Regions from separate parts of the Homo sapiens genome. Here region 2 is linked to region 1. Evidence: fine-mapped expression QTL. A gene starts in region 1. The other region holds a variant in brackets. All regions are shown on one strand. Distances are between the middles of the regions.

Region 1 (4,403 bases):
TCACTTTTCTTTTCAAGTCAGTTCTCCCCTACAAAAAATTTTACAAAGTAAGTTTACTAAAGCACTACTGGGCTGCACATAGCGTGTAGGAAATAGAATTGGGAGAATGAAGAAGAAATATGGGGCATAAGATCCACGGCAAACAGATTTAATTATAGTATCAAGAAATTACTAAAAGAGAAGATAAAGCATTTGAGTAGAAAAGATGTCAGGAATCATGTAAAAATAGAGATTACAGTCCTATCTCCTCAACAATCTTCAAATGCATTGCTGAACAACTCTGCATTATAAAGCCTACTGTTTATAACAGTGGCCTCTTATTTTAGAAATATAGCCATCAAAAATTATTATAATACAAAAGCATAAATGTTCAACTGAGTTTAGATACCTGGCTTATTCCCTTTTTCAGTATATTTCATGTCTCAACAATGCTGAGTCATTTATATTCAGTTTTTGAAATCTTTCCAGAAAAGACACTAAAAACTTTGGTATAAATATTTTACATCTATCTCAAATTTTATTCAATGGAAAAGATAAGATTACCTTCAGATTTTAATTACGTCTAGAAAAATAAAAGCCCTAAGGGGTAAAATGCAAGTCTCTAATCTGCTTATTACAAAATGCAATCAATTAAGTAAAGCCTTCATTCCGTACCTCCTCAATGGTACACTGAAGCTAATATCTACTGAGATGTGTGAGCTTTTTGTTAAATTTTCAGGAGTTTTGTGAACTAGTTGCCAATCACAGACATTATTAAAATTTAAAGTATTTATATAAACCTACTAGTTAAGTATTTATATAAACCTATAATTTAAAACAAAGGTAATAAATACTCAAAATTCATGGCATCCTAATTATTTTACTACATTTTACTTTCATGATTTTTTGAGGTTTTTAAAACATCTATTTTATTCACAGGGTGAAAATACCGTATATGCTCTAGTACCGAGTATCTCTTATCAATCCCATGTTTATGTTTAAGGACATTCTATAGACAGATTCAAATTGGCCATGTAGGAGTATTTATGCTACAGAAATTTAAAAACACTATAAAGCAGAACTTGATTTTTATTTTATTGGTTGTCTAGACTTAAGTGATAGAGAAAATTTTAATACTGCAGATTGAAATTGAAATTTGTGGCATGTCCCTAGTTATTACATTTCCAATAGTGCCAAAAAAAGGAAATATTCTCCATGTATTTGAAAACTGTTATTCAATTCAGTGAAGAAATTGCTGACATCATTGATGAACCAGTAAAATTCCAACATAACCCATGCTGAGGCTGAAACAAATTTCAGTTTAATTAATATAGTTTTCACTAAGTGAAAAATAATTTAACAGTGGATCACATATCAGGTGTAACAATAACAATTATTGAGGAATGAATTATCAATTGAGATTAACTGTATTTGTGACATTTTGTTTGAACTGCGTCCATAGTTTGCTATACATACAACAGTTCAGCAAGAATAAATAAAACATTCTCTGAAATCAGTTGGTTATATGGAATTGACAATAAAAAGTGCTGTATATTTTATTATTATCTGTCAAGTGTGTGTTATACATCTTCTATATCAGCACAATTTGTATTATATTTTGTAGTATATATGCATGCATGTGTGTGTGTGCATGTTTATTTTTCCCAGGAAGCTGCTTGTTAAACATTTACTGGCACACTACCCTGTGTCCTTCCCTTACAATGTAACTGTGGCCACTACAGATCACGGAGGAGCACATTAACATGCCCTGGTCTACCATGTGAAAAGAATATCTTAAGTTCTAAATTGAAAAGACACACATGCACAATACTTACTATAAATTAGTGGAAACACTTCTCTGGTCTGTGTTCAATGTGAAAAACTTCTCTGCTGTGAATATGGGGAGTCCATGTTTTCATTAGATCATTCTAAATGAATCTCGGCTCAGGTGATTTATAGCCGATTGCATCAGCCTAAATTACTCTTTGCACATTCATGTTGAAAATATTCAGGGAAACAGTTTTCACTGTATTAGATTATGGAAAAGGAATTGACATCACAGGCATCTAAGTATCAATTGGACCTAGAATCTGATGAAATCATACTGAAAAGCTGCATGTATTACTTTGGCAATCAGATGACTCACCAGCAGAAACTGTACAGATCTCACGAGCAGGCCTGGTGGCCGGAATTTATGCTTATGATTCACAGGAGTCACATGTGCTCCTTTCAAATACACCAGATACAGCTTTCTACTTTATCAAAACAACATCAATCAGTCCACTGTGCTGATGACAGTATTTTTATGTATGTAATTTAGTCCTTGGGGAAATTACTTTTCTATAACGTTCTGGGAAAAGAGTGAACTGTTTCAGTTATTGTTCAGTTCCACATATAAACAACAAAAATGGAGGAAGACAAAGCTGACTGATGTGAAAGGGAATCCTCTGTTGCCCAGTTAGAAACAAATTTTGTTGTAAATTTTGAACTGACTGAGAAAGTGAAAGAAAGCTTTGGTGGAAGGAACAGCACTGACTTTTGCATAATTGTAGGCTTTTCACCTGAAGCATTCCAAACCAAAAACAGTGAGTGGAAATGTTGTACAGTGTCTTCTCAGGCTGCAAAAAGATGATAATATTTTTATGGATCTTCTGAGAAAACAGAGGAGTGATTTATAAGTATAGATATTGAAAACACTGCTGGAAATTTTAAGGATGGGTAGGCAGAAAATCTTCTGTGATCATCAAATTGAGGATGTCCTGAATTTGGAGAGAGGGCAAATTTGAACACAAGGAGCTTATGCAAAAGGAACAAGCAAACAAACTGGAATAAATTGCTGGAAAAACAATACTCCAAGTGCTTTTAAACAGCTCTTCAGTTTATATAGACTTTTAAAAATATATTCTAAAATAAATGTGGATAGAAAAGAGGCCCTGACAGAACTAAACTCTCTTCCACCAACTACAAATCAGAGAGAACGATGATTAGTTTCTCCTAATGAGAAACTAGGGTTAGAGCATCACATTAAAAAGCAAGTCTAATCTTTCTTCCTTCAATGTATGTGACTATGGACTTGCAAAGAAGTCCTTCTTCCTTCTAATTCATATTACAGCTTGCAGGATGGTTGGGATTTACATCTTGAATATTGTGGATTTTACCATACAAATGTATAACTAGGAGGTGGCCTGCTTTTATCTGACTAGTTGACATTCATAAATAAAAGGGTAACAATAATGGAGGAGGGCTTTATGAGAAACCTGAGTATATGATGCTATCCAAGGCTCCAGAAAGGCAAAAAATGTCCCTATTTGGAAGATATATTCAGCAGCTCATGTGCACATTTCAGTTAATATATAGACATATTAAAGATGATATGCACGTTTGTCTTGGAGTGGAATACAAAAATGATTTTTATTCAAACCCAAATGGTGAGAGCAAAAATTATTATGACAAAATTTCTGATAAAGTACCTCAAATTAACATCAAACCCAAACTTCTAGCCTTAGCCATGAGTTTTTACCAGCTACATCTTTTGCTGGAGTTACTGAGCAGCAGAATTGATTCTTCTGTCTCCTCTATAGCCTGAATAATTTTCTCATAACGTAAACAATTTCGTAATCAAATGGCCACAGGAATGGCAAAATATCAGAGAATATGTCGAAATGGAAGGAAATCCTGGGATTATCTGATCTGTAGACTCTTCCTATTAAATTAAACATTAAATGCCTGAAATGTTATAAGACGTTATTAAATATCTGAAACGAAATCTCAGTATGAAAAGCAGATATGTTAGGTGGATGCCTCAGTTGAATTCAGTCTTCTTATTGGGTAAGATTAGTCTTTGTTCACAGAACTACTTTACCACCTTCACTGAGTCCCATGGTTCACTGCAGCTCGGAATGAAATCTCCTGATTTTTCTTCATGTATAAGGAAACTGAGGTCCTGTATGCCAAGCCACTTTCCCCAAAGGTCAAATAGGAAGATAGTGGCAGTGGCAGATTGGAGTCAGTACCATGTTCCTCATACAACACCACAAAGAAGTCAACTTGGTTAGCAACCAAAACTCCGACTGCATTTTTTTCTTAGATTCCATTGTGCCAATGCATAACCTTTGTATTCTTTCAATTTTTAAATGGCACTCTAGAAGAAAAAAAGATATCTGGGAAAGTTTGCTGTTAAGAATATTTTCTCCTTCAAGATTCCTCATTTCAAGTTCTACCATAGACTCAGTTCATCACCTGTCAAAAAAATGACATGAAATCTCAACATTCTCCCTAAAATACAGAGACCTGTGACATCATAATCCTGAAGCCTGAGAGACTAAGTAGGAAGCTGAACCATATGACATAAACTGTAAGGACCAGAGTAGAGGAGGGGAAGTGAAGAGGAAAAGAGGAAAGGACATCCACATCTCTTTGGACCT
Region 2 (4,403 bases), 69 kb before region 1:
GAGAGGAGGACATGCTTGTCTTGTACCGGTTTTCAAAGGGAATGCTTCCAACTTTTTGCCTATTCAATATGATACTGGCTGTGGATTTGTCAGAAATAGCTTATTATTTTGAGATATTTTCTATCAATATCTAGTTTATTGAGAGTTTTTAACATGAAGAGATGTTGAATTTTATCAAAGGCCTTTTCTGCATCTGTTGAGATAATCATGTGGTTTTTGTCTTTGGTTCTGTTTATGCGATTGATTACATTTATTGATTTGCGTATGTTGAAACAGCCTTGCATCCCAGAGATTAATCTGATTTGATCATGGTGGATCAGTTTTTTGATGTGCTGCTGGATTCAGTTTGCCAGTATTTTATTGAGGACTTTCACATCAATGTTCATCAGGGATGTTGGCCTGAAGTTTTCTTATTTTGTTGTGTCTCTTCCCAGTTTTTTGGTACAAGATGATGCTGGCTTCATAAAATGAGTTAGGGAGGAGTCCCTCCTTTTCAGTTGTTTGGAGTAGTTTCAGAAGGAAAGGTAGAAGCTCCTCTCTGTATTTCTGGTAGAATTTGGCGGTGAATCCATCTGGTAATGGGCTGTTTTGGGTTGTTAGGCTATTAATTACTGCCTCAATTTCAGAGCTTGTTATTGGTCTATTCAGGGATTTGACTGCTCTCTGGTTTAGTCTTGGTAGGGTGTATGCATCCAGGAATTCATCCATTTCTTCTTGATTTTCTAGTTTATTTACTTAGAGGTGTTTATAGTGTTCTCTGATGATAGTTTGTATCTCTGTGGGGTCAGTGGTGGTGTCCCTTTTATCATTTTTTATTGTGTCTATTTGATTCTTCTCTTTCTTCTTCTTTAATAGTCTAGCTAACAGTCTATTTTGTTAAGTTTTTCAAACAAACATCTCCTGGTTTGTTGATTTTTTTGGAGGGCTTTTCATGTCTCTATCTCCTTCAATTCTTCTCTGATCTTGTCTGTGGACTGCATAAACAGAACCAAAGACAAAAACCACATGATTATCTCAATAGATGCAGAAAAGGCCTTTGACAAAATTCAACATCTCGTCATGTTAAAAACTCTCAATAAACTGGTATATATAGAACATATCTCAGAATAATAAGCTATTTCTGACAAATCCACAGCCAAGCTATTTCTTGTCTTCTGATAGCTTTTGGATTACTTTGCTCTTGCCCCTCTTTCTCTCTCTCTCTTTTTTTTTTTTATTGAGAAAGAGTCTCTGTTGACCAGGCTGAAGTGCAGTGGCATGATCTTGGCTCACTGCAACCTCTGCCTCCCAACTTCCACACCCGATTACTTTTGTATTTTTAGTACAGATGGGGTTTCACCACATTGGCTACGCTGTTCTCAAACTCCTGACCTCAGGTGATCCACCTGCCTCAGCTTCCCAAAAGTGCTTGGATTACAGGCATGAGCCACTGCGCCCGGCCTCTCTAGCTCTTTTATTTGTGATGTTAGGGTGTCGATTTGAGATATTTCTAGCTTTCTAATGTGGGCATTTAGTGTTATAAATTTCCCTCTTAACACTGTTTCAGCTGTGTCCGCAAAATTCTGGTATGTTGTCTATTTGTTATTGGTTTCAAAGAATTTGTTGATTTCTGCTTTAATTTCATTATTTACCCAGGAGTCATTCAGGAGCAAGTTGTTCAATTTCCATGAAATTGTGTGGTTTTGAGTGAGCTTCTTAATCTTGAGTTTTAATTTGATTGCACTGTGGTCTGAGACTGTTTGTTATGATTTCAGTTCTTTTGCATTTGCTGAGGAGTGTTTTACTTCCAATTATGTGGTTGATTTTAGAATAAGTGCCATGTCACACTGAGAAGAATGTATATTCTGTTGATCTGAGGTTGAGAGTTCTGTAGATGTCTACTAGGTCCACTTGATCCAGAACTGAGTTCAATTCCTGAATATCCTTGTTAATTTTCTGTCTTGTTGATCTGTCTAATACTGACTGTGGGATGCTAAAGTCTCCCACTATTATTGTGTGGGAGTCTAAGTCTTGTTTTCGTTCTCTAAGAACTTCTTTGATGAATCTGGATGCATATATATTGAATCTGATGTATTGGGTGCATATATATTCAGAATAGTTAGCTCTTCTTGTTGAATTGTTCCTTTTACCATTGTGTAATGGCCTACTTTCTCTTTTTTGATCTTTGTTGGTTTAAAGTCTGTTTTGTCAAAGACTAGCATTTCAACCCCTGCTTTTTTTTTTTTTTTTTTTTTTTTTTTGCTTTCCATTTGCTTGGTAAGTTTTCCTCCATCCCTTTATTTTGAGCCTGTGTGTCTTTGCATGTAAGATGGGTCTCCTGTATACAGC[G/A]CACAGATGGGTCTTGACTCCTTATCCAATTTGCCAGTCTGTGTCTTTTAATTGAGGCATTTAACCCATTTACATATAAGGAGAGTATTGTTATATGTGAATTTGATTCTGTCATCATGATGCTATTTTATTATTTTGCACACTACTTGATGCAGTTTCTTCATAGTGTCATTGGTCTTTATATTTTGATGTGTTTTTGCAGTGGCTAGTACTGATTTTTCCTTTCCATATTTAGTGCTTCTTTCAGGAGCTCTTGTGGGGCAGGCCTGGTGGTTACAAAATCCCTCAGCATTTGCTTGTCTGGAAAGGATTTTATTTATCCTTCACTTATGAAGCTTAGTTTGGCTGGATATGAAATTCTGGGTTGAAAATCCTTTTCCTTAAGACTATTGAATATTAGCCCCCTATATCTTCTGGCTTGTAGAGTTTCTGCTGAGAGGCTTGCTGTTAGTCTGATGGACTTCCCTTTGTATGTGACCTGGCCTTTCTCTATGGCTGCCCTTAACAGTTTTTCCTTCATTTCAACCTTGGAGAATCTGATGATTATGTGTCTTGAGGTTGATTTTCTCATGAAGTATCTCAATGGTATTCTCTGTATTTCCTGAATTTGCATGTTAGCCTCTCTTGCTATGTTGGGGAAGTTCTGCTGGATAATATCCTGAAGTATGTTTTCCAGTTTGTTTCCATTTTCCCCGTCTCCTTCTGGTACACCAATCATTTGTAGGTTCAGTCTTTTTATGAAGTCCCATATTTCTTGGCGGCTTTGTTCATTCCTTTTCATTCTTTCATCTCTATTTTTGTCTGTATGTCTTATTTCAGTAAGGTGGTCTTCAAACTCTGATATGCTTTCTTTGACTTGGTCAATTCAGCATTGATACTTATGTATGCTTCATGAAGTTCCTGTGCTGTGTTTTTCAGCTCCATCGGGTCATTTATGTTCCTCTCTAAACTGTTTATTCTAGTTAGCAATTCTTCTAGCCTTTTATCAAGTTTCTTTGCTTCTTTGCATTTGGGTATACATGCTTCTTTGCATTGGGGTAGACATGCTCCCTTAGCTCAGTGTAGTTTTTATTACCCATCTTCTGAAGCCTACTTCTGTCAATTTGTCCATCTGATTCTCTGACCAGTTCTGCACCCTTGAAGGAGAGACATTGCAATCGTTTGGAGGAGACAAGGCACTCTGGGCCTTTTGAGTTTTTGGCATTTTTTTGATGATTCTTTCTCATCTTCATGAGTTTGTCTAGTTTTGGTCTTTGAGGCTGCTGACCCTTGGATGGGATTTTTGTGGGGGCCTTTTTGTTGTTGTGGCTGTTGTTGTTACTTTCTGTTTGTTTTTCTTTCAGTAGTTAGGGCTCTCTTTTGTAGGGCTGCTGCAGTTTGCTGAGGGTTCACTTCAGGCCCTATTCATCTGATTTTTCTCCTGTGCCCAGAGATGTCACTCAAGGCGGTGCCTCCCTTGGCTGGGGGAAGGGGGTTTCCCTTCCCCGTGTGGCTCTCAGGTGGGCCTTCTCTCCATGAGTCACGCCAGCCTTCTAGTCAATTTTGACGAGAGAACCTGGATACCTTGGTTGCTGGTGAAGGATTCACATGCTTATTATGTTTTTTCGTTTTTTTTTTTCTATGGGAGCCTCCAAACGTCGCTGCTTCTAGTCGGCCCTCTTCGGGAGGTGTTTTATGTGTATATCCATTTATTTATTCCTCCATCCATCCAGTAATTCATCTTCTTTGATGCATTTTAAAGTAAATTGTGGACTTCAGCATACTTCCTACTAGAGACTTCAGCATGCATAACATTAAATAAAACGAATATCTGTCCATCTTTTTTCTTTTGATGAAAAAATTATTTTCATAATATAAAATTCTTATGTGTACATTCACTGAATGCTGACAAATGTATACATCTGTGTAACTCAAATCTTTGTCAAAATATAGACTATTAACATTACTGCAGAAATATTCCTCATACTCTCTCCCATTCAATCTCTACTTTCACCTTCCCAGAGGCAACCACCATTCAGATTTTTTCCATTCTAGAACTTCATGTAATTGAATTCATACAATTTGTACACTTATGT

Which allele goes with the higher level. Alleles are on the strand shown, and positions count from the first base shown. SD is a standard deviation of normalised expression in the study named.
For the expression in prefrontal cortex of the gene that starts at base 1,911 in region 1, G is the low allele of the variant in region 2 and A is the other (large effect, 0.79 SD a copy in CommonMind).

Evidence for each region. PIP is the estimated chance that this variant, and not a neighbour inherited with it, causes the effect.
Region 2: its variant is the best candidate, but not a certain one, in a credible set for the expression of LURAP1L-AS1 in prefrontal cortex (CommonMind, PIP 0.78).

The regions. Positions count from the first base shown.
Region 1 is chr9:12,812,479-12,816,881 of GRCh38, forward strand. It overlaps LURAP1L-AS1 (LURAP1L antisense RNA 1), which reads right to left and starts at 1,911. Exons shown (of 4, transcript NR_125775.1): 1 at 1,815-1,911. All of the region lies in intron 1 of LURAP1L (leucine rich adaptor protein 1 like), which reads left to right. RefSeq lists an enhancer at 1,524-2,723.
Region 2 is chr9:12,743,316-12,747,718 of GRCh38, forward strand. The region is part of intron 3 of LURAP1L-AS1 (LURAP1L antisense RNA 1); the gene reads right to left. Among named protein-coding and RNA genes, the nearest start is that of LURAP1L, 30 kb to the right of the region's middle. The variant G/A (reference allele first, on the strand shown) is at 2,329.